Linked DNA regions of Homo sapiens. The protein of the gene in region 1 interacts with the protein of each later gene in a pairwise test. Each region holds a gene or a part of one and is shown on either strand. Other genes may lie near its edges.

Region 1 (12,383 bases):
CTCGGTGAGAACAAGAGGAACACATTTAGCTCTGCATTATGTATTTAGGTTGAGAGAAACAATTTCGAATGAATGGGGGTCTCTCCAACAAAGCAGTCTAGAACGGGCCCCTGAGGTTTGAATTCAGGCCTTAGGAATGCCAAAGCTCACTGAGCGATTCTGTTTGCAAACCCACCCGCCACGGGGACGGATTTTCCCCGAGACACTGTCACCCATGCCTCCAGCTCTGGGCATACCCCACTGCGGCCCCTCCCCAATGACCTCCCCTGCCCCTCGCGGACCAGCCCATCCTCAAGATAGTACAACTTTCCGGGCCACCCCACGTCTCCTCTCGCCCCCGTCCGGTTGCTTGGAAATGTGCACGGGACGGTGACGTCACACAGGGAGGCGGGTCCCCACTGTCCCGCACACCAATGGCGCGGCGGCCGCCGGCCTCTTGGTTCCCGGCGATTGGTGTCTCTGGCCGCTGCGCTCCACCCCAGCCCGCCATGGCGTCAGGCGCCGCGGCCCCGGGGAGGTGGCTCCCACTTTAAGAAGTGAAGTTTTGCGCCCCTCCCCCTCCCTGCCCACCTCCTGCAGCCTCCTGCGCCCCGCCGAGCTGGCGGATGGAGCTGCGCAGCGGGAGCGTGGGCAGCCAGGCGGTGGCGCGGAGGATGGATGGGGACAGCCGAGATGGCGGCGGCGGCAAGGACGCCACCGGGTCGGAGGACTACGAGAACCTGCCGACTAGCGCCTCCGTGTCCACCCACATGACAGCAGGAGCGATGGCCGGGATCCTGGAGCACTCGGTCATGTACCCGGTGGACTCGGTGAAGGTGAGGCGCGGGGAGACTTCGGGGACGCAACGAGCGGAGAAGGAGCGCGCGCGCGCATTTGCATCCCGCGCGCCGGCAGCCTCGGGGCAGCGTCCCGAAACCGAGCTCTCCCCAGGACCGCGGCTGGCCGGGGTCGCCCCAGGAGCAGCTGCGCGCAGCCTGGGCGCCGCGCCTTCCGCCGACCCCGCGAGGGTGCCCGGTCCTCGCCCCGCACCGCCCGCTGCTCCAGCCGCGTGCCCGGCCCCGGCTGCTGGCGGCGCTGAGGCGGGGGAGGCGGAGTGGCGAGCACCGCTGGCTTCGGCGGCGACTGGGCTCCCGGGGGACGCGATCGCTGAAGCTCTGCACAGTCTTACCACGCTGGCCGTTCGGGCTGGCTGGGGCCGCCCACACGTGCGCGGTTTCCGAGGGAGCTCCCCGCAGGGGAAGCCCTCACCACGCTGGAGCTGAGAAACGTGTGGCCCTGGCCCGGCCGCGCGCCCTCGGGACTTGGTGTGTGGCTGCTGCTCCCCGGGTTATTTCGGGAACTTGGGGCCGGCAAGTCTTCTCTCGACTAGTGGCAGCTCTTTACCGGTTCGACAGCGGCCCGTGGGATCCCCTTTCTGAGGGTTCCTGCACTTCTTCCCCCGACTTTGGGTCGCCGAGCCGCCGGGAGGCAATGACGTTTGCCTTCTCCTTTTGCTTGCGGGGAGGTGGGTGGGCTTGTGCCTTACAGCCCTTGCTGTGGATTGTGTGAGAGGCACTCAGTTTCCTTTAAACCCTGTCTGTCACTTGCCCCGGTAGTTTTAACTGCATTTCTGTAAAGAGGCAGCGTTACTAGGTGCGTTTTGCCTGGTAGACTGAGACCTGCCCTCTGTCAGCCTGCCCAGAACACCCCAGGGCCAGGATAGAGTAGTGCAGGAAGTAATGCCAGTATTGACTGTTACACGTTGCACTTTTATAGGCATAACTCGCCTAATTCATGCAACAGCCCTGGGGGTTAACAGATGAAGAAACTGAGGCGCAGAGAGGCGAACCGATTACCTTGCCCAGGCTCCTACACCACCTCCTATCCTCTGGCTGCAGCTGCAGTGTGCTTTGGAGGATTCGGAGGCCTCTCTAGGTGGCAATTATTTTGCAAGGCAGGTCCCACAGAGGCACCCCCAGCAGCTTTATCTTGTTGCTGATGCTGGTCCTGCATGAGCAGGTATGAAGGCCAGAAAGTATAACTCAGAGGGTTTTCCCGGCTCCGGGGAGCTCGCTTGGAGCCAGCAGTCAGTGTCTGGACAGGCAGAAGTCCAGTGAGGAAAGACATGGGCTTCCAAGGTGCTGCTGGACCTAAGCCTGAGCCATCACCCATATGTCCCTCCAGTGTCCCAGTGGGGAGTTAGAGGAATGGTTCTCATCTCCAGGAAAGACACTGGACTGATACCAGGTGGCATTTGTATGGGAAAGAATCCCTCAAATGTAATAAAATTCTCCATGATTGAAGCTGTTGTCTCAACTGCCCTGGGCAGAGTCTGGGGAAAGTTAGGAGCAGGGAGGTGTTATCTGAGCAGGCCCTAGTCCTACTGGTGTCTTGAGATGAATGTTCTATTCGGGAACCCCACAGTGAGTTCACTTTAGAGCATCATTTTAGCTTATTTTTAGGATTAGAAATAATTAGTTGTGCCTTCTGAGCACCCTTTGACACTCTCAAGAGGCGTTTCTCACACGTTTAAATTGTGTGATCTGTGTTTAGTTTCTCCCTGCCCCATACATGTTGATATGTTTTGGTTCAGATGTCACCTGTATACTTAGTATTACTTTCCATAGCAGTTTTCACCTGTGGACAGGTTAACATGGTGTGAATGGTAGAAGGAGCCGGTCTGGTTTTCCTAGACAAGTCTGTAAAACAAGGCGTGGGTTAGCTAATCAGTGAAGTCTTCTAGGTTCTGGGATTATAACTGACCCTTAGGGGCCCTTCCATGCTGAAGTGTGCAGGGTTGGTTTTGAGGCTGCCACTGAGTGCCAAGGTCTGCCAACATCAGCACAGTTGTCTGCCAAGCATGAGGAGTCAGGGGTGCATCCTCCATCATGGAAAGGCTTGGGGGAGACCACACCTGTGTTCCTCTTAAGTATTTTGGATGATGGCGAAGACCGGGAGTAACTGAGTCAAGAAACCCGGGTTGGGCTTCAAGCCCTGCTCTCACTTGCTTCATGCCTCGGGCACTGTTCTGTGCCTTAGTTTTGTCACTATAAAGTGGGGACAGTGGACCTGCTCAGTCCCTCTCCACATTTTTAACCCATGCCTCGTTTCTCTGAACACACAACACCCATCGTCCTCTTTTATGTTACTTGAAATATCAAAAGAATTATTACAGCTGAAAACAAATCTATGTAAATCGGATCTTGAAAGAGAGAAAGCTTTCTCCAGTTTTGAAAGGCGCCATTTTTAACTTTGATCTTGTAATGACAAATAAGAATGTTGAATCGGCTGGCTTTTTTCTATCCTAGGTAATGTGGACTGTGGAGCTCTGTGCTGGTCACTTTCAACCCTGAACCTGATGCTACTTATTTTGCAGTTCTAAGTGCAAAGTCGGCCTGGTGGATGCTTCCCATTATAATATTAAATTTGCTTCTTCGTGAGGTCACACCTCACATCCCCAGTGTCACTTTAATAACTAGTGTTTTTTACATGGTGGGCCATGACCCATTAGTGGACTCTGCATTTAAAAATAAATAAATAAATAAAAGAAGTTATTAGTGAGAGTGTAAAAATACGGGTGTGCCTGGCATGCAGTGGGAGAAATGTTGAAATTCTGTTTGGGTTGTGTGTGTGTCTCTGAGTGCATTTTACAGACGTGTACAATGTACTTCTGGCTGGGAGTTGTGGTCAAACAAATATGAAAACCACTGAACCTGAGAAAATATCTCTGGAGCCCCAGCAGGCAACACTGAGATTATGAAATGGGTATTTGGAAGACCTTTGGCAACTTTCCTGCTGCTTCCTGTGTCTTCTTCTTTCCCTTGGTCCTCCCATGGTGGGATGTGAGCACTCATTCATCCATAAAGGGCCAGTCTACTGGGACCTTTGGCTGCCCCTGCGATGACAGTGAGCAGCAAAGTGATACCCAGGGAGGGAGTATAGGGTCTCTGCAGGGCTCTCACCAAATGGTGGCAATGACTTACTCCTGTCTAGGCGGGGTCTGGTGGCAGGTTTTCCATGAGCCTCTTTCTGGTGTTCCAGAGTGGCAAGGGGCACTTGGGGTGGATACAAGAACCCCTGGTCTGATCAGGAGAGCTCAAGACTTGAGGAGCATGCCAGGTGGGTGGAGGAGGAAATTCCAACCAGATTAGGCACACCACTCGGAGACCATGCCGAGTCCCGCCTGGGGAAAGCAGGGGCAGAAGGAAACAGGAAAGATTTGAAGCCGGGGGACTTCCGCTGACCCTTTCACAACCCTTCTTTTGCTTTGCTGTTGGGGGAAACCCTGCCTGTGACTCTCCTAGGATGAGCCCTCCTTCCCAGGTTGGTGCACCACGGAGCGTTCCCTCTAGGAGCCTCCTGGCTGACCTTATGGTGTGCACAGCCAGCCTGCCCAGCTCAGCAGAGCATTACCTCAACTTCTGACTTCTCCTCTTCTGAGTTTTCTCCTGGCTGCAGGCAGACTGGTAGGAAGGGTGCTGGGGGGCAGTGCAGGCAGCTGCCAGAGTCCCCTCCCACCCACTTCATTGCTTTCCAAACAAAGTGCAGTTCGGTCCATGCCATTCAGCTTCAGAAGGGCGTGAAATCCCAAATTGCTCTAGTTCCTGGGACAAAACTATAATGATTTTTCTCTCTCCCTTCTTGTCTCCTCTCCCTCACATCCCCCTGCTCCCTTCTTTTCTCTCCTTTGATGAGAGGTGATTTTCTTAAAAGGCGAATTTGGAACGAGGAATCAAAAAAGGGGTATTTGTGAGCTGCAGTCCTGTTCCTTGTTTCATGAACCCCCAGGCAGCCATGGCCTGTACCCCTCAGGCCTACCCTGAGGAGTGTGAGAACCTCATCCACTTTTCTCTGCCCTAAATTGGGGAGGGGCAGGCTGGAGCGTGGTTTGGAGGCGCGTGCCCAAGAGTACTGTGAACAGCAAAGGGGGCCTCAGCTTTTTAGTAGGGAGAGGTATTTGGGGTTGAATGGGAGGATTTAATCAGCTGCTTTGCTTAAACTATACAGGGGTGTGCACCTGGGGTGGGGGATGTGCGTGTCACCTGGAAGGGAGGAATGTGCTTCCCAAACCTTTTCCTGGCTTCCACTTGGGCACGTTTCAGCTGCATGTGGCCATCTCATTAGAGATGAGTTTTGTCCTGTCTTGCAGCAGTGACCAGTCTTGGGGAATCAGTTCCACTTTCTCTGTTTTTTAGTCTTGGGCTTCTGACTCTCTCTGACTTCAGGGGTTTCCTTCTTCTGACTCATCGGATGAACTCACCTGCTGGTGTGGAAGCCTTCAGCATCTTTCTTGAACCCCAGAGCTTTTTGGCTCTTTTCCTGTCTCCACTAGTACGGAACCTTTTCTTGTCAAAGAATTTGTGTTTTTGTTTTTGTTTTTAATCCGAAATACCGGCTGTCATGTCCCATCCATGCTGGCCACAGACATACCCCTGTGATCATGGTGTTGGCTGGACCATGCCAGGATGCATGGCTTTGCCACTCCCATGCCCACCTTGAATGTTGTGTCTGATGTTTGTCATAGGAGGGGTATATCCAATCTCTTTCTCTTTTTTTTCTCCCTCTCTCTCTCTTTTTTTTTGTTTTTTTGAGACAGGGTCTCGGTCTGTCACCCAGGTTGGAGAGTAGTGGTGTGATTGCAGCTCACTGCAGCCTTGACCTCCCAGGGCTTGAGTGATCCTCCCAGCTCAGACTCCTGAGTAGCTGGGACTACAGGCACATGCCACCATGCCTGGCTAATTTTTTTGTATTTTTTTGTAGAGATGGGGGCCTCAATTTGTTGCCCAGACTGGTCTTGAACTCCTGGGCTCAAGCGATCCTCCCACCTTGGCCTTCCAAAGTGCTGGGATTACAGGCATGAACCACCATGCCCAGCCTCTTTCTTTTTGTTGAACTGGAAACCTTCCCTAAAGTTCCCTCAACCTTCCCTCAAGTTCCTACTGAGATGGATTTCCCACCCTTAGAGAACTATCTTGGGGTTCAAATTCCAGTCTTTGACTTACTGGTTGGGCAGGACACTTAGCTTCTTCATGTCCTTACTTGTCAAATGGGGATCCTGATTTTCTTCCTGCTTTCTCTTTCCTGACCCAGCTTTCCATTGCTTCTTTCCCACTTCTCTCATTTTTCCAGTGGGCCTTGTGGAAGTTCCTTGTTAACAAGCTCCCTTACATCTTCCCCTCTTTACCGAATGTTTCTTTCACTTCCCCCTCCTGATGGAAATCCAGCTCCTCTTGCTAAGGGTTGGGAGCATGGACCCTTGAGTCCAAATCCCTGGACCGGGTCCCATTTCCCAGTTAGGTGTGACCTTGGGCAAGTTTCTTAACCTTTCTGTGCTATTTCCCTATCTGTAAAAAGAAGAAGAGATGGTACCGATCTCCCAGGGTGGTTGTGAGGAGGGTTAAGCCCTCGCTGCACTTCACATGCCTGGTACACGCACAGAACAGTTGATACTCTCTGATGTCTGCTCTCATCTTTATCTTCATCATCATCAGCATGATTGCCATCACTTTCTCTCATTCCCTGAGGACTCTGGCATCTGATGCACAGACTTCACCTCCACAGATCCCGTCCTCACCCTGAGGATGGCCCCTCTTCGTCCCCACCCGACTCAAGTCCAAATCACTCCATTCCTTACACCTCTGAGTCAATGGCCTTCACCTCCATGGTCCCTTGACCTAACTCAGAATCTTCCTGAGATCTTAAATCCAGATTATTATAGCCTGGACCCCAAGATTGACTGCTGCAGCTGCTGGGGCCTTTAGTTTCTCTGCCTTTGGTTCTTCCAACCCTGGCTTGCCCCACCTGGGTCCTGGACAGCCCATCTGTCCCTTGGGCAGCGAAGCCCTTCAGGGGACATTCACACTGCCTCCAATGCGCATGCTCCCTGGCCTCAGCTCCACATGTCTGGGCAGCTGCTTGCATCCTTCACGAGGGTCCTGTTGCCCCTTAGCTCCCCACCCTATTGTTGTCAGCCTCAGCCTGGCATCTTGCTTCCATGTCATAGGGAAACCAGGACCTCAATCAAACCCATCTTCCTGTCACTGTCCTTCCAAACTCTCTTGCCTTCTACCCCCACTATAAGGGAACAGGTGTCTTCATTCCTTTAAGGTATATCAATGTGGCAGAGAAGGGAGATGTATACAAACCACCTTGACACCAGGATTTGAATACTGGCTGCACACCTGGGCACATTACCTAACCTCTCTAAGCTCAGGTTCCTTCTCTGCAAAGTGGGGATATGAATACTGTATTAGTCTGTTTTCAAGCTGCTGATAAAGACATACCTGAGACTGCGTAATTTATACAGAAAGAGGTTTAATGGACCCACAGTTCCACGTGGCTGGGAAGGCCTCACAATCATGGCAGAAGGCAAAAGGCACATCTTACATGGTAACAGACAAGAAAGAGGACAGAACCCAGTGAAAGGGGTTTTCCCCATATAAAATCATCAGATCTCGTGAGACTTATTCACTACCATGAGAACAGTGTGGGGGAAACTGCCCCCATGATTCAATTACCTCCCACTGGGTCCCTCCCATAACACGTGGGAATTATGGGAGCCACTATTCAAGATGAGATTTGAGTGGGGACGCAGCCAAACCATATCAAATACCAAGAGCTATTTTATAGGGTTGTTGTAAGAATTAAATGAGGCAACATATGTAAAGTTCTTGCCACAGTGCGTGGTGCGTACGTTGTCAATAAATGGTGATGGTGATGTCATTTTTGTCCCCTCACTCTTGAGTGACTCGGTTCCAGGATCTTTAGGCTTCCTGCTCCATTGAGTTTTTCTCAAAAGTGTTTCTACAGATCCAAGCCCATCCTGTCTTAAATAAACCCCAGACTTCTCACCTTGACCTCACATGCACCCCCAATGTTTCTTCCCATAAACAAACTGTTGCCCCTTTTTTTCCTCCTTAAAACAACACATGTTCTGAAAGAACTATTGACACTGGTCTCTACTTCCTCACTGCCACCCCTGCTTCCTGGCTTTTGCACTGCCCAGCCGCAGCCTCACAGAGACTTCTGGCTACCCATCATCTTCCTGGCCCACCCTGCTGCCTCTGTTCCTGCCAGGGGCACCTCCGAGAGGGGGTTGGCCCTGCGATCCTCAGTTTTCCTCTTTGGGCATGGCTTCTCCTCAGGAATGTGCCCTTCCACCTCATTTTCCCCAGCACACATGCCTCAGTTTCCTCCTGGGACCTGATGGCTCCCAGATCACTATCTTGGGCCCAGACTTTCTGGAGCTGAATCTCCAGTTGCCTCGGAGCCTCCTCAGACTCAGTGTGGCCAGAATGGTGGTCCTGGCTTCCCCTCGGGCCTGCCCTTCTGCCTCCTTCTGCACCCTGGGATGGTCATCAGCTTTTCTCCCACTGCTGCCCTGTATGCAGGGAAGGCCTGCCTGTGGCTGTATCTGTAGTACTTCTTGAATGTGTTTCCTTCTCTCCCTCCCCACAGCTACTTACTGCCTTGGTTCAGGGACCTGGATGTCTCCTCTTCCTTGAGATCCCAGACTGCCCAAGTTAAAAGTGAGTTTAGGCCGAGCTCAGTGGCTCACGCCTGTAATCCCAATACCTTGAGAGGCCGAGGTGGGAGGATCACTTGAGGCCAGGAGTTGGAGACCAGCCTGGGCAACATAGCGAGACCCCATAGGTACAAAAAATAAAAACATTAGCTTGGTATAGTGGTATGCGCCAGTGGTCTCAGCTTCTTGGGAGGCTGAGGTGGGGGAATTGCTTGAGCCTGGGAGGTCGAGGCTGTAGTGAGCTATGATTGGACCACCGCACTCCAGCCTGGGCAACAGAGCAAGACCCTGTCTCAAAAAAAAAAAAAAAAAAATGAGATTACTCTCCCCTGCCTCACATTTCCCTATTGCCCATTGCTGCTTTGTTTTTCTCCCCAGCAGTTGTTACTTCGTAACACACACCATCGTTTATTTATATTGTTTACATATTTTACTTATATTTATAGTATTATTTGTATTGTTTATGGTCTCTCTTCCCTCATCAGAATGTAGGCCCCAAGTGGGCAGGGATGTATGCTCTTCTGTTCACCACTGTATTCCCATTGCCAGAAACACAGTAGGTGCTCAGTAAGTATTTGATGGAGGAGCTTCTGCAGTTCATTCTGCACGTCAGCCATGGCTGGTCCTGCTCTTCAGCCTCCAAGCCCAGCAGCTTCCTGGTGGGCTGCAGTTTTCTCATCGGAAATAGAGAAGAGTAGCAGTGCCGATTCTGCCTCCCTTGCAGGTCGTTTTAGTGCATCTAGTTGGAAAATACAGGCAGGTTTGCAGGGAACACAGTTTTCAAAGTGTAAAGCTCAGTGCAGGTGCTAGGTCATGGTGTTTTTTGTCACACTGGGATCCTGCGGGAGAGGTAAGTTTAGCTGATTGGAGTGGAAGATCCAGCCCATTCTTCGTGGTGCCTGCCGCAGAGCCTGCAAGCCTGCAGAAAGACAGGGAGTAGCCACGTCTTTCTGTAGTTCACACCTGTGTGTCTCCCCACCTGATAATCCCTCAGCACTTCTGTTTGCCTTGCATGTAAAGCCCGACCTTTGCATGGCAGGCACACAGACTGAAACTCTTTCCTCCTCCAGCCTTTCTTGGACTCATCCACAGAATGACAAAGAAGTATTCTGTGAATATTGGTTGAATGAAGGAAGGCACGGCTTTTTAAAAAAGATGAAAAAAAAAAAAGTTATGAAAAGCTTTAAAACTTGCTATTGGCTGGGCGTGGTGGCTCACACCTATAATCCCAGCACTTTGGGAGGCCGAGGCGGGCAGATCACCTGAGGTCAGGAGTTTGAGACCAGCCTGGCCAACATGGCAAAACCCCGTCTCTACTAAAAATACAAAAATTAGCTGGGCGTGGTGGTGGGTGCCTGTAATCCCAGCTACTTGGGAGGCTGAGGAAGGAGAATCACTTGAACCTGGGAGGCGGAGGTTGCAGTGAGCCGAGATCGCGCCATTGCACTCCAGCCCGGACAACAGAGCGAGACTTCATCTCAAAAAAAAAAAAAAAAAAAAAAAAAACCAGAAAAAAAAACTTGCCATTAAACAAATTCCAGTTTTGATTTTTGTTTTGCATTGGTTTTGAATCCATGCATGTTATGGCCACAAAGAAGACTTTCTTGGCTCCGTTGTTTGTCGTGTGTGTGTGTGTGTGTGTGTGTTTGTGTGTGTGTGTAGAACCCAGCAAGCAGCAGCTATACCCCGATGAGGCAATGTCTTCATTTGGCCACTCATGTCATTCCACGTTTCCTGAGTGCCCTCTTGGCTAGGCACTGTGCTAGACACTGGGCTACAAAAATAAGAATGCCTGGTCCCCGTTCTCAAAGTAAGCGTGCTTCCTATAATTAGACCCTGAGCTAAGGCGACAGAACCAGCTCCCTTTCAAGACAAGAGTCGCCTGTCTTGACGGACTTTCAGATGGGCTGGAAGAACAAGGTCTGGCGTGTATGGACTCTGAACTGCTCAAGCTGCTGCCGTCTTGCAGGTCTAGAGCCTACAGGGTAGCGTCATTCTAGTTTCTTTGCTGGGCACTCTGGAATTTGTTCTTTCTCCTGCGAGAGACAGTGGTCCTCAGTTGTGTTCCCTCCCCACCATCCTCACCCTCCCTCCCACGGTGGTTAGTCATTCTGGAGGCTCAAGTTGGCTCACAGAAGGTGCTCTTGAAAACATCCCCCACCCTCCTCGTAACCCCAGACAGTCAGGAAGGGCCGTTGTCGGGTACTAAGAGGTGTTATGGTTTCACATTCATGCTTTCTCTCTGAAGAGAAAACAAAACATGTTGAAATAGGGAGAAATCCCAGCAGCAGCTTGCTTGAAGCAAGGGTTGCATAACAGGTCTAGGAAACGTCTGGCCGTGTGGGTCAAGTTGAGGGACTGCAGCCTTGTGTCACTGAGGGAACTTCTTCCGGGTCCACCGAGCCTCTGGATCCATTAGATCCATCCAGAGAGCCACTTGGAAGGCTCTGGGACCTTGAGTTCTGGCTGGCCACGTGGTCTGTGATGGCTGTCACTGGTGAAAGAGAGACCCTGGCTGATATTTAGCCAACAGTGTTTATTCCCTGGCATGACCAGAAAGGGTGCATTTGAGACACTGCTGTGGGTGGGGGACCCGGAGGAGTGTTTGTGTGTCAGACTTATGCTGGTGTTGAGGCCCTAGAAAGGTCACCAAACTGGGGCGGGGTGTGGGCCCCGTGAATTTAAGTCCTGGTCCTGCCATTAACCAGCTTGGAAACCTTGGGCTAATCATTTCTCTGGGCTAGTTTTCTCCTTGTGAATCTAGACTAGTGTCATCTACTTTACCTTTTTGACAGGGCTGTTGGGAAGCTTAGGTGAGATAGATTTGTGAATGGCTCTTGCAAACCTTAACATGCAAAGCTAATGACAGATTGTATCAGAGGCAATGTGCTTGATTATTAGAGCTGTTTAGGTTAACAGCACAACCTCTGCAGCCAGACTGCCTGGAGTGGCACCTGGTCAAGTTCCTGAAACCTCTCTTTGCCTTATTTTTCTCATCTATAAAATGGGGCTAATAACTTTACCCATTTCAGTGTTGCTGTGAGAATTAATTGAGATGATACACCTAGAATGTTAAGGCACATGGCAAATGCCCCATTAATATCAGCTCCTCTTGTTATTTCTAAAAGTATTACTTCAATGCCTGGGTATGTTTATATATTGCTGGTGCAATTGTTAATTTTATATTATTTTTGTATTGTTAGCTTTTATTTGGTCATTTGATCCTCTTAGCTCTCCTTTGAAGGTGAGAAAAGGCAGGTGTTGTTTCTCATTTCATATTTGAGAAAACTGAACTTCAGAAAAATTACATGCCCTAGAACTCGGGCCTTTTTCTGCTCCAGAGCTGAAAGCGAGAGAAGAGAGGAAGGGAATTAGGCTGGAGCAAGCCAGTAGGATGTTGGATGCAGACTCAGATGTTAATGGCAGCAGAGCCCTTGAGCTGGATTCTAGAATATGAGAAAGGGCTGAGATTGATGATGGGGCCCAGCTGCATTGTTGGGATGGAGGAACCAGAGTTGAGTCGAGGGAGTAACTCCAGGAAATCATGGCACCCAGAAAGTGTGGCACAGAATGCAGGGCTCTAACGTATAGTTAGGAGTTCTTTGGGCAAGTACTCCAGCAAGCAAGGAAGAAGGATGATGACATATGGTTATTGCCACAGGATATTTTTGGCTGCGTCTGGCTTCTCTCTCTGAAACAAATTGCAGTTGCTGTGACACCTTCTCATTTCAGCAGTGAGTCGAAGTTGCACTCAATATAGTGTTTTGAATTCGGACTAGTCGTGAAGATTCCTTTCCAGATCATAGTATATGTATATAAGTCACTTACTGGGAAGAGCACTACATCATAGTTCCGTGGTCCACTAAGGCTGCAGTTTTCT
Region 2 (12,190 bases), on another chromosome or scaffold:
TATTAGATTTCTGGACTTGTGTGGGGCCTGTAGACCCTTTGCTTTGGCCAATTTCTCCCATTTTGAGCAGGTGTGTTTTCCTAATGCCTATATCCCCATTGTATCTAGGAAGTAACTAAATTGCTTTTGATTTTATAGGCTCATAGGCGAAAGAGACTTGCCTTGTCTCAGATGAGACTTTGAACTTGGACTTTTGGGTTAATGCTGGAATGAATTAAGACTTTGGGGGACTGTTGGAAGGGCATGATTGTATTTTGAAATGTGAGGACATGACATTTGGGAGGTACTAGGGGTGGAATAATATGGTTTGGCTCTGTGTCTTCACTTAAATTTCACCTTAAATTGTAATAATCCCCACGTGTCAAGGGTGGGACTAGGTGGAGATGATTGAATCATGGGGGCAATTTCCCGCATACTGTTCTTGTGATAGTAAGTTCTCATGAGATCTGATGGTTTTGTAAGGGGCTTCCCCCTTCACTTGGCTCTCATTCTCTCTTCTGCCATTGTGTGAAGAAGGATGTGTTTGCTTCCCCTTCCACCAAGTCCTCCCTAGCCATACGAAACTGTGAGTCAATTAAGCCTCTTTTCTTTATAAATTACCCAGTCTCGGGTATTTCTTCATAGAAGTGTGAGAACAGACTAATACAGAATCCTAATTAAACTATGGACTGTGAGCAACAATGCTTTGTCCATGTATTTTCATCAGTTGTAACAAATGTACCACTCTGGTGCAGGATGTCAGTAGTGGCAGGGGTTGTGTGTTAGCAGTGTAGAGGAGGTACATGGGAACTCTCTACCTTCTATTCAGTGTTGCTGGTAACCTAAAACAGCTCTAAAGTTTTTAAATTTAAAATGCTGCAAAATGATGACTCTGACTTTTTAATATTGGGCTAGATAATTTTCTAATTCTGGACTCACTTGATTGTTCCCAGAAATTTAACTTTGATTGACTAAAATTCATTTTAGCCCAAATGTTTTACAATTCTGTAAAGTAACAAAGGTGTGATTTTTTTTTTCCTGAATGGGAAATAAGTGCCATGGCCTTATTGTCTCAAGGAGTAAATCAGTTTTGAATTTAACTTAGCAATTTACCTCATCATTTCTTTCCCCCAAAACTATAAGTCCTTCAAATCTTTTCGAACCAGCTCTTCATTCTGCTCCTCCCTCACTGATTAGTTAAATAAAACTTTGACCCATAATCACTATCTGTTTGTGTGGGAATTTTATGATTAAAAAGAATTGGTAATTGTAACTTTACATCATCCTACAATCAAGGACGGCCTGCTCTTGTGGGGGCCCTGGCCTTCTGTTGGTCAGGAACAATGTAAAAGTTCTTATTTAGAGCACAATGAGGCAAATGAAAAGGGAACAGACAGTGACCAACTGTTACTTAAATCTAACCTGTAAAAGAAAGATTCTTTTTTTCCCCAAGCCAAACTGTATCTAGCTTTATTAAAGATACTTTCCAGAAACAATCATGGTATTTCAGGCAGGACATGGGCAGTCATTCACAGTATAAAACATTTCAAATTCCCTACTTCAATGGACTACCAAAAATCAGAAAGCCACTGTAAAACCCAATGAAGACTTCATCTGATGCTCTGAACAGGGAAAGTTTAGAGTGAAGGTTGACATTTCTCATTTAGCATGTTGTTTTAACAACCTTTCATGAGTTGACCCTGACTTTCAGGAAGTGAAATGAAAATGGCAGAATTTATCTGATGATCCACAATCTAGAAACAGAACCGCTGCTCTTTTGAGGGGCACCATCTCAGTGGCATCACAGGCAAGTCCAGATTGCCTGACACACTGGTAACCAATTATTTGGGTTCAGGTCCCAACAGGTGTCTGGGTTTGAGTGAGTTAAGTCTATGATGAAAGGTGGAAAGGGAGAAGAGGACATAAAAACAATTTGTTTTTCCATACCAAGGCTTTTGTGCCAAGGTGGCCATGTGTGTCAAAGTCAGGGAATCTCTCCTCTTGGGAACCAATAGGAAGTCTCTCAAACCTAGAAGGGAAATGTGTTTTCCCCACATCAATCCAGCTTCATAGACATTCTATTAGTGACCTATGCCCCTTTCCCCCCAAACAACAATGAAGTGCTCTGCGTGCTAACAGCATAGCTTAAAAAAAGTAAAACAAAATTATGAATTTTTATAAAACTCGATAAAAAATAGTATTTCAAACTCTTCAGTCACCAGAAGTACAGTTATCAAAAATGCAGACACTTCACGTGGCATCTCCAGGACCTTCAGCTTTCTGTGCCTGGTCTGTTTTGTCATCTCCATTTTCTGCAGGGTTATTCCCCTCCCTGCCAGCATTAGCATTTACCCTTTTCCCTATGGGTACCTTCACTCACTTTTTTGCAGGGGCCTCTTTAGGCTTAGACTCTGGCTTTGGAGAAGCAGGTTTAGCAGACAACCTCTTGGATCTTTTCTGTGGTTTGTCCTTCATGTTGGATTTATCTCCTTTAGCATCCCCTTCAGCCTTTCTCTTGGGGATGGTGGTGATAGTGGCGGGACATAGGCTCTGGGGGAGGGATGCAGTGGTGCACGGGCTTTGGCCACTCTGGGGAGTCGTTCTTGTCTCTTTACTTCCAGATTCTTTTTTTTATTTTTTTATTTTTTTTATCTTATAAGTAATTCCTTTGCTCTCCTCTGGCTCTCATGTATCCTCATTATTAAATAGTTATGCCATCTAGTCCAGATTCCATTTCAGAAACCTTTCAGCATTTTTACCATTCGAAGATTTGCAGTTTAATCTTTTTATTAGTTTTCTAGAGTGACTGTACCAAAGTACCACACTAGGTGGCTAAAGCAATAGAAATGGAATGTCTCACATTTCTGGAGTCCAGAAGACCATCAAAGTATTGTCAGTGTTGGTTCCTTCTGAGAGTGGTGGGGGAGAATCTGCTCAGAGACCTTTCTCCTAGCTTCTGGGGCTTTACTGCCAATCTTTGGCATTCACTGGTTTGTGGAAGCATCACCCCAATCTCTGCCTTCATCTTCACATGGTGTTCTCCCTGAGCATCTTCATGTTTCTGTGTTCAAATTTCCTTGCTATAAGGACACTTGTCACATTGGATTAGGGGCCCACACCACTCCAGCTTGATTTCATGTTAACTAAGTACATCTACAATGACCCTATTTTCAAATAAGGTCACATTCTGAGGTGCTAAGGATTAGGACTTCACCATATGAATTGAGGTATGGGGAGACATAATTCAACCCATAACAGTCTTAAATTAAGAGGTGTAATTTCTGTCCATTTGTGTATTTTCCCAGAGAAATTTCTTAAAGTCCAAATAAAAAACTTAATTGGTCCAATAATGATGATTCAGAGGAGCTATTGTTATCTGAGCTTCTATAAAAATTAGCGTGCTTTGGGCTGCAAGTACCAAAAGTGTGACTCAATGCCAGCCATATGAATGAACCATCTTGGGTGCCCAGCCCTGTTGAGTCTTTAGACTTGATTCTCAACTCATATCTCAATGCAACCACATGAGAGATCCCATGAGTGAACTGCCCAGCTAAACCTTCTCTCAATTTCTCACTTACAAAATTGTGAGCAGAATAAAATGGTTGTTTTAAGCCAGTATGTTTTGGGTAGCTGGTTGTGCAGGAATAGTAACTTAATGGGAAGAAATATCCAAAGTAAATAAATAACTCCTATGAAAGAATTAAAAAAGAGAAGCACCCCAGTTGAGAATTGAGACAAAAATAGGAATTTCAATCAAGAGGAATAAAAAATGCCCCCCCAACCAAGGTATTAAATCTAATTCATAATCATAGAAATTCTACATAAAAGCATAATAACAATTGACATTCCTCAGGATTAACAACATTTAAGTCACACAATATGAAATGTTAGTGATGATATGGAGCTTGATGGAAACATAAATTTGTACAGCAACCCAGAAGACAATTTGGCAATGTCTCTGAATACTAAAGATAGTCTTTGATTCAGCAATGCCATGGCTAGGTACATAACTTAGAGGAACTCTCCAAGAATATTTAAAGCAGCATTGTTTCTGATAGTAAAAATGGGAAACAACTTAAATATCTGTCAATGGGAAAATTGATAAATTTTGGTACACACACACACACAATGGAATACTATACAGAAGTGAAAATTGAGGAATAAAATTTGCTTATATCAAAATGGTGATTCTCACAAACAATAATTAGTTAATACAGTGATGACTATGAATAGTATGATATCATTTCTGCCAAGTGTAAAAGAGACAAAGACAATTTTTTAGGGATATAGTCATTTGCAGAAAAAGCACGAAGAAATGCACATGGAGGACAAGAGTGGGAGACAACAGGGAAGGAATCTGCAGGCGCTTACCCTCACTGGCAGTGTTTTATGTCTTCATCCAGTTACTACATTCAGGAGTACTGGATGTACTTTTTAAGTACGTTTTGTATGTTAAATATTGCAGAATGTATTTTATAAAGTATTTAATTACCAGAAACTCTTTAAAAAATTCCCAGGCCTGTTTCAGACTCAGCAGATCAGATTGCAGAGGTGGGGCCCATGAATCTGCCCCTTTTGTGACCCCGATAGTCACTACTGGTCTAAGCCAGGGCAAGGCCACCCCGGTGGAGGTTGCTTCCTTCATGCTGTATTATGTTTTTCACTTTACAAGTAATAATGTTTATCCATCAGTTCCCCAACTTTGGTGCTGCTGTGTTATCTACCATGCAAGGAGATGGGGAAGCAAAAGTAATTAAGACATTTCCACTGGTTTCAAGGGCAAAGGTTAACTCCAATATAAAGGAGTTCTAAAACTTTTCAAATTGGACATATTCACATCTATTGTCTTGATACCAGTGTTTCCAAATCCTTTTTTCCCAATGCCCAGAACATCCACAGATCACTGCGTCTGTCTGGGAACTTCACAGGCTTCTTTCCGGAGACATTCCAGACACGCCCCTCTGCCTTGGCATGAATACTTGGCATCTCCCCTTGACATCTCAAGCTTTGTCATTTACTCACTGTGTGACCTTGGGCCAGTAGTGTCCCTTCTCTGAACCTCTGTTTCCACCCCTGCAAGTTGGGCAGATGAAGGTTCAGTTTGAAGCTGGTTGAGCCCTTGGAGTGACAAAGCAAGGGACTGTGAATGGACAAAAATGAGAGAAATAAATTCTAATAGGCATGAAGCAACCAGGGGAGAAATAGTCCCAATTCTACCCAAAGACTGATGGGCACTAATTTAGAATCCAGTCTCAATTCTACCTTCAATACGGTGTGTGACCTTGAAAATGTCTCTTAATCTCTCTGAGCCTCATGAGTCAAATCAGGATAATGTTAATACCTGCTTCAGAGTTCTGGTGAGGAGCAAATGAAATAACTCCTGTAAAGATGTTTCAGGAATTCTGTCTGACCAGGAAAAAGCCCTTGGGGCCATTTCTTCTTGGTCCCTGACAAGTGCCAGGCTGACGAGCAGAACTCAGGGTGGGGCAGGAAGTCAGTGGACAGTTTTGTGCCCCACTCACTGCAAGGTGGCCTCCCAGACTTGGCTGGATGGGTGAACCTGGCCTGAAAATCAACCACAAGCCCCTTTTCGTTGTGTTTGGAGAGGAGCTGAAGCTGTGTGAATAGGAGTTGAGCATGCGGCTGGCAGAGCAGGCAGGACCCACAGAACACCTGGGCCCACTGCCTGAGGGACAGTCACTCCCTTCTTCATTTGGCTGCTGCCCTGGGATCAAACGGATACAATAGAACCCACGGCGCACGGCTGCCAAGGAAGGGCAGGCCCAAGGGATTGGGCTCCAAGTCCTGGAAGTGGTTTCCCAAGTCACTAGATTTGCAGCGCACAAAACCGGAAAGGTCCCGGTAAACCTGTCCACTGGCACCTGGGCAGCGAAGCGCTTTGGCCGGAGGGCCTCAGGTCCCAGCAGCGGGATGGACAGCGGGGAGATGGCTGACCCTCCTTGGGGTGGTGTGCGTGACCTGCATGAGTGCCTGGGGCATCTCCTGCACGGAATGGCACCCGCACCAGGTGCCCCTGGCCTCGCCAGCCAGAGGACCAGTCCTGGACGGGGAGGGGGAGGACAAGAGCAGGTGAACAGGCCCCAGAACCCGGCTCCCTGACCCTGGCCATAATGCAGAGCTGCCTGGCGCACCTCAGACCACTCCCTGGCCCTCTGGTGGGCACGCCGGGGTGCAGACCCCTCGCCCCGCTGGCACCTCCGTGGCACGTGCGGGAGGGGCAGGAGCCGGGACCAGGAACCGCTGTGGTGAGAGCCAAAGGCACGGGGACTGGCCGCCACAGACCTTTGGCCACCGCAGTGGGGATGGGGGTGGGCGGGCGCTTGTGTGCCCGGGGGCCCGGGGGCCCCCGTGGCGGGGGGGCTAGGGGAGAGGAGCAGGTGACGTCACCCGGGGACCTGGGGCCCCCAGGGGCGGCGGCGAGAGCCCGACCTCGTGACCCGTCCGCGCCAATGGCCCTGCGGTCTCCCGGACGACGCGGAGGGGTCCGCGCTGCACCGCCGCCGCGCCCCCGCCCCGTGTCCGCACTGCAGAGAGCCGCGGCGAGCAGGCGCCGGCGCACTGGCCCACGTGCTGCGCGAGCGAGGGAGAGCCACAGTCTGAGCGAACGTCCGCGCTGGGAGCCAGGGGTGCCCGACCCCCGTCCGCCGCCGCCGCCGCCGCCGCGCATAGCCCCCGGAGAGCCCTCTGGGGACCCCGACCAGAAGGGACCTTGCCCTGGGAGAAGGTAACAGACCCACCTGGGGAGGGAGACGCTGGGCCCCGGGAGACTCCGCCGCCCCTCGCCTGTCCGCCCTATCAGAACTGAAGCAGCCTGCAGGGCAGGGGTCCAGGGTCCTGGGGCAGCGCGGGGAGGGGGCTGAGGCCCGCAGAGACCCCACGGGGGGTGGGGGTGGGGGGCTGGGCAGGGGCGGGGCCTGGCTGCAGAGGCGCCGCCCGGGGAGGAGGGCGGCTGGGGGTGGGGGTGGGGGTGGGCGTGGATGTGGGCGTGCGGAGAGGTGGGCATTAACCTCGCTCTCGCCCTGCTCGCATTCACAGGCTGTGGAGACCTGGGCCTTCTGCGATCACCCTAGGAGTTGATCCAGATATGTGCCTCACGCCCTGATCACTCCCCCCAAATTAGTATCCGCAGAGATTCGAGGACATGCCGTTGACCTTGTTACAGGACTGGTGTCGGGGGGAACACCTGAACACCCGGAGGTGCATGCTCATCCTGGGGATCCCCGAGGACTGTGGCGAGGATGAGTTTGAGGAGACACTCCAGGAGGCTTGCAGGCACCTGGGCAGATACAGGGTGATTGGCAGGATGTTTAGGAGGGAGGAGAACGCCCAGGCGATTCTACTGGAGCTGGCACAAGATATCGACTATGCTTTGCTCCCAAGGGAAATACCAGGAAAGGGGGGGCCCTGGGAAGTGATTGTAAAACCCCGTAACTCAGATGGGGAATTTCTCAACAGACTGAACCGCTTCTTAGAGGAGGAGAGGCGGACCGTGTCAGATATGAACCGAGTCCTCGGGTCGGACACCAATTGTTCGGCTCCAAGAGTGACTATATCACCAGAGTTCTGGACCTGGGCCCAGACTCTGGGGGCAGCAGTGCAGCCTCTGCTAGAACAAATGTTGTACCGAGAACTAAGAGTGTTTTCTGGGAACACCATATCCATCCCAGGTGCACTGGCCTTTGATGCCTGGCTTGAGCACACCACTGAGATGCTACAGATGTGGCAGGTGCCCGAGGGGGAAAAGAGGCGGAGGCTGATGGAATGCTTACGGGGCCCTGCTCTCCAGGTGGTCAGTGGGCTCCGGGCCAGCAATGCTTCCATAACTGTGGAGGAGTGCCTGGCTGCCTTGCAGCAGGTGTTCGGACCTGTGGAGAGCCATAAAATTGCCCAGGTGAAGTTGTGTAAAGCCTATCAGGAGGCAGGAGAGAAAGTATCTAGCTTTGTGTTACGTTTGGAACCCCTGCTCCAAAGAGCTGTAGAAAACAATGTGGTATCACGTAGAAACGTGAATCAGACTCGCCTGAAACGAGTCTTAAGTGGGGCCACCCTTCCTGACAAACTCCGAGATAAGCTTAAGCTGATGAAACAGCGAAGGAAGCCTCCTGGTTTCCTGGCCCTGGTGAAGCTCCTGCGTGAGGAGGAGGAATGGGAGGCCACTTTAGGTCCAGATAGGGAGAGTCTGGAGGGGCTGGAAGTAGCCCCAAGGCCACCTGCCAGGATCACTGGGGTTGGGGCAGTACCTCTCCCTGCCTCTGGCAACAGTTTTGATGCGAGGCCTTCCCAGGGCTACCGGCGCCGGAGGGGCAGAGGCCAACACCGAAGGGGTGGTGTGGCAAGGGCTGGCTCTCGAGGCTCAAGAAAACGGAAACGCCACACATTCTGCTATAGCTGTGGGGAAGACGGCCACATCAGGGTACAGTGCATCAACCCCTCCAACCTGCTCTTGGTAAAGCAGAAGAAACAGGCTGCAGTTGAGTCGGGAAACGGGAACTGGGCTTGGGACAAGAGCCATCCCAAGTCCAAGGCCAAGTAGGCTCGGGAGAACAGGGCAACATTTCCTACCACAGGCCAAGGAGACAAAAGAGATATTGGAAGGAGGGGAAAGAGAAGCCCAGACAAACAGCAGATGAGTTGAGTGGGGCAGAGGGACAGGGCAGCCAGACCAAGGCCAAGCCTTCTCACCCTTGGCCAGCTGGAAGGGACTTCAGCAACCAAGACCACCTGGCAACAGGCTCAGTGGGGGTCAGGTCCAGGTCCCCGAAGAGGTGCTGGAGAGGAAAGCAGGGAGCCACTGCATCCAGCACATGGGGTGCCTGGGCCTCAGATGGGGACCCCAAAGAAGCAGAAGCTGAAGAAGGTACGGCTGGGGGTTCTGTCCTGCTCATCCAACCACCCCTAAATACCCACCCTGTGGACTTTGAGCTGAACATGCCCACTGGCCCCCAGGCCACATGGGACCTGGAGGAGCCTACCTGGGGCCTGCCCCTGCCAGCAGGTGCCAGGGCTGGTGAGGAAGAGCTGGGGGGCAGAGGTAAAGCCCTGCAGGGGAGGCCACAGGGTCCATCCCGTCTTCAGGATCATCTACACTGCACTAGGGGAGCCCCAGGAAGGCAGCACCCTGGAGGCCCTGTGCCAGTGAGGACAGGAGACCCTAAGGCCCCGGGAGCCCAGTGCCAGCCAGAGGTTGTGCAGGCAAGGAGACCAAAGATTGATGAGAAGACCCCCAGCAGGGGTACTGGGTACCCGGCAGGCCAGTGCCCTCACAGTTGACTTGGACCAGGGTGGCTGTGAAGGGAAGTCTTTGTTGCAAAGGAGGAGGAAAAGGGAGGACTTGGTAGGGTTTTGTTTCTTCTGCTTGTTTCTGTACAGGGCCACCAGACTCCTGGAGAGATCAAGCAAGGAGAACCTGGGGCTGCCATGGCCAAAGCAACTCAACAGATGCCAATGCCAATTCCAAGGCCAGCCACAACCCTGCCACCTTGGGGAATCCAGCCTGGAGGCATCCCCTAAGCAGCCAGCCATGGCCTGGGTGGAGGCACCTGAAGACGTCTGTCCCAAACTCCCCCAGCCCTGAGCTGGGAGATGACAGGGGGAAAGAGGCCCTCTCAAGGGTGCCAGATGCCTGGGTCTCCCAAGAGGGGTCCCCCAACTCACTGTTCCCGGGACAGGCTGCCCCCTGTTCCAGGAAGCTCATCCTCACCTGTGTAGGCCCCTGTAGTGACCCACGCGTCCAGCAGACGCCCACCCACCGCTAGCCGTTGTTCCTGTGCAAAGTAGTGTGCTATGCACCCACCCAGGTGGCCGCCTCTGGGCCCAAGGCACATGCTGTGAGCTTCCTGTGAGCCCAGGCTCTGCTCACTGCTGTCCCGCGTCATGAGCACCACCTCTGCTTTCCCTGTGTAGATCTAGGCCAGTGGCTGCTTGTTCTTGTGGAGCTGTGTGTGTTCTTCTCTGAGCAGCTCCTCCCCGGAGTCCCCCAGCACAGTCCCAGGAGATGACAGGAAGGAAGCACCAGGGCAAGGCGGACGCTCACCCTGTGACCACGATGGTGACCGTGACTGTGGGAGGAAGAACTGGACCCAGGACGGAGCGGGGCTGCCCTGCCTGAGGCTCCCGAGGAGCTTTGTGCTTTGGTGTTCCACCCCTGTTGTTACTCATGACTCAGTTTCCTTAACCTGGTAGGGTGTTCCCTGCTGTGTTTTCCAGTGTCCTGTGACTGTCCTGTGCGGGCCATAGGGCAGGGCCCTGCCCCAGCAGATGGGCTTGGGAGGGGACTCCCTAAAGCCAGTGGACACTGCCAGAGTCTACCTTCCTGGCAAGAGGCAGACCCCGGGGCCCTCAGGAAGGAGGGAGTTGGCAGCGGGGGCTGCAGCAGGAGTAGGAGCAGATGAGGCGTCTTGCCAGGAACCTCAGGAGGAGGGGGCCCGGGACCTGTGTGGGACCTGTGTCCTGTGGTGGCCGTTTGCAGTTTCTCTCTGTGTTGTGATTCCCTTCTCTTCAACGTTTTCAGTACGTGTTTCTCTTCAATAAACTTCATTCAGTGTTCCAGCCGGCCTCGCCTCTGCTGTGGGAAACTGGGGATGAGGTTGGCTGGGCATGGGGTTGGGGTGGAGTGAGGGCCACAGTGGCTTTGTTAACACTGGTGTATACTTGGGGCTCGGTCTGCAAGGCATTCTAGAATGCCCTATCTGCGCATGTTGGTCATGAGCTAGGGTTCACGGCCCACGGACCCAGGCAAAGAAACCCAGCTGAGCAGGCTGGATAGTCCCAGTAGACAGGACACTGGTAGGCCCAGGCAGTGGCTGGTTGGGTCCTCAGGGCACTGGTTGAGCTTCTCAGAAATGAATAACATATTTAAGGAAGGGTGAGGGACAGCAGGCTGGACCAGTGGCCCCAGGATCCCTTGTATCACTATTGGGCTTCCACACCTGGAGCATCAAAACCAGGCCCATCTCTGTGAGTGTGTGTGAGATGGTGAATATGTGTGAGTATGCGTACTAGTGATTGTGTGAGAGTGAGTGTAGGAGAGTTTGTGTGTGTCATGTGTCAGCGAATGTGTGAATATGTGAGTGTGTGAGATGGTGTGTGAATATGTTAATGTGTGTTTGTATTTGAGTGTGAGTATGCATCAGTTTTTGTGTGTGAGTGAATGTGTGTTAGTGGTCAAATGTATGTTTATGTGTTTAATGTATATGTGTGTTAGTAAAAGTATGTGAATATGTGAGAGTGAGACGGTGTGTGAATGTGTGTATGACAGTGAATGTGTGGGTGACTTTGTGTTGTTGAGTGTGCACATGAGTGAATGTGTGTTTCAGAGTGTGTTTATGAGTTTGTGTGTGCATATGCGTGAATGTGTGGAATGGGTGAGTGTGTGAGTATGTGTGTTAGTGTGTATGAGACAGTTTATGAGAGGGTGTGTGAATTTTCGTGTGAGTGCAAATGTTGGGTGATTGATTTTTTTTTTATTTCTTTAAGGGATCAAGAGGGTTGGAAAGAAGGCAGAGAGAGGTAGAAGTTTCTTTGCCACCAAACAGCAGTGAGACTTTTGTTGCCTCTAGGCTGATGGCCCTAGAGCTGGGCCTACTAGCTAATCATCCATTTCTGACCCCTGGCACATTCCTATTTTTAAGGTTCACATGGCTTCTTGGCCTTTTGGCTACGATCAAGTGCAGTATCTATTTTAAGGTCCCTAATCTAAAAATAGATATGTGTTACAGTTATTGTGTGATTAAAGCTGATAGAAACATCCTCGTATGAATCTCTGTGGACTTTTGTTTTCCTTTCTCCCGAGTAAATACCTAGGAATGGAATGGCTGGGCCACAGGGTAGTGGTATATTTAACTTTATAAGAAACTTCACACAGATTTCCAAAGCTATTGTGACAATTTATACTCTAATGAGCAGTGCTCGTTTCTTAGGGTACTCCAAAAAATCTTGTATTGCCAGCTTTAAACTTTTAACCATTCTGTTGGGTGACTCACTGTGGTATCTCACTGAGGCATTAGTTTGCATTTCTGTGATGACTAATAATATCGAGCACTTTTTCATGTGCTTATTAGCTATCTGTCTTCCTTAGCGAAGTGCCTGTTCAAGTCCCTTGCCTAGTTTTTACCTGGCTTTTTAAATTTTTTATTAGAGTTGTGCAAGTTGTTAAAATACTCTGGATACAAGTACTTTGATATGTGTGCTG

Evidence for each region.
Region 2: the proteins of SLC25A37 (region 1) and PNMA3 interact in binary tests that used the Homo sapiens proteins (3 or more experiments, as listed by UniProt).

The regions. Positions count from the first base shown.
Region 1 is NC_000008.11:23,528,398-23,540,780, forward strand, and holds the start of SLC25A37 (mitoferrin-1), read left to right. Parts: upstream 1-558; 5' UTR 559-605; coding exon 606-815; intron 816-8,436; exon of another isoform or gene 8,437-8,507; intron 8,508-12,383. UniProt on the Homo sapiens protein: Mitochondrial iron transporter that specifically mediates iron uptake in developing erythroid cells, thereby playing an essential role in heme biosynthesis.
Region 2 is NC_000023.11:153,049,915-153,062,104, forward strand, and holds PNMA3 (paraneoplastic antigen Ma3), read left to right. Parts: upstream 1-6,555; 5' UTR 6,556-6,724; intron 6,725-7,035; 5' UTR 7,036-7,141; coding exon 7,142-8,533; 3' UTR 8,534-8,567; coding exon of another isoform or gene 8,568-8,630; 3' UTR 8,631-10,548; downstream 10,549-12,190.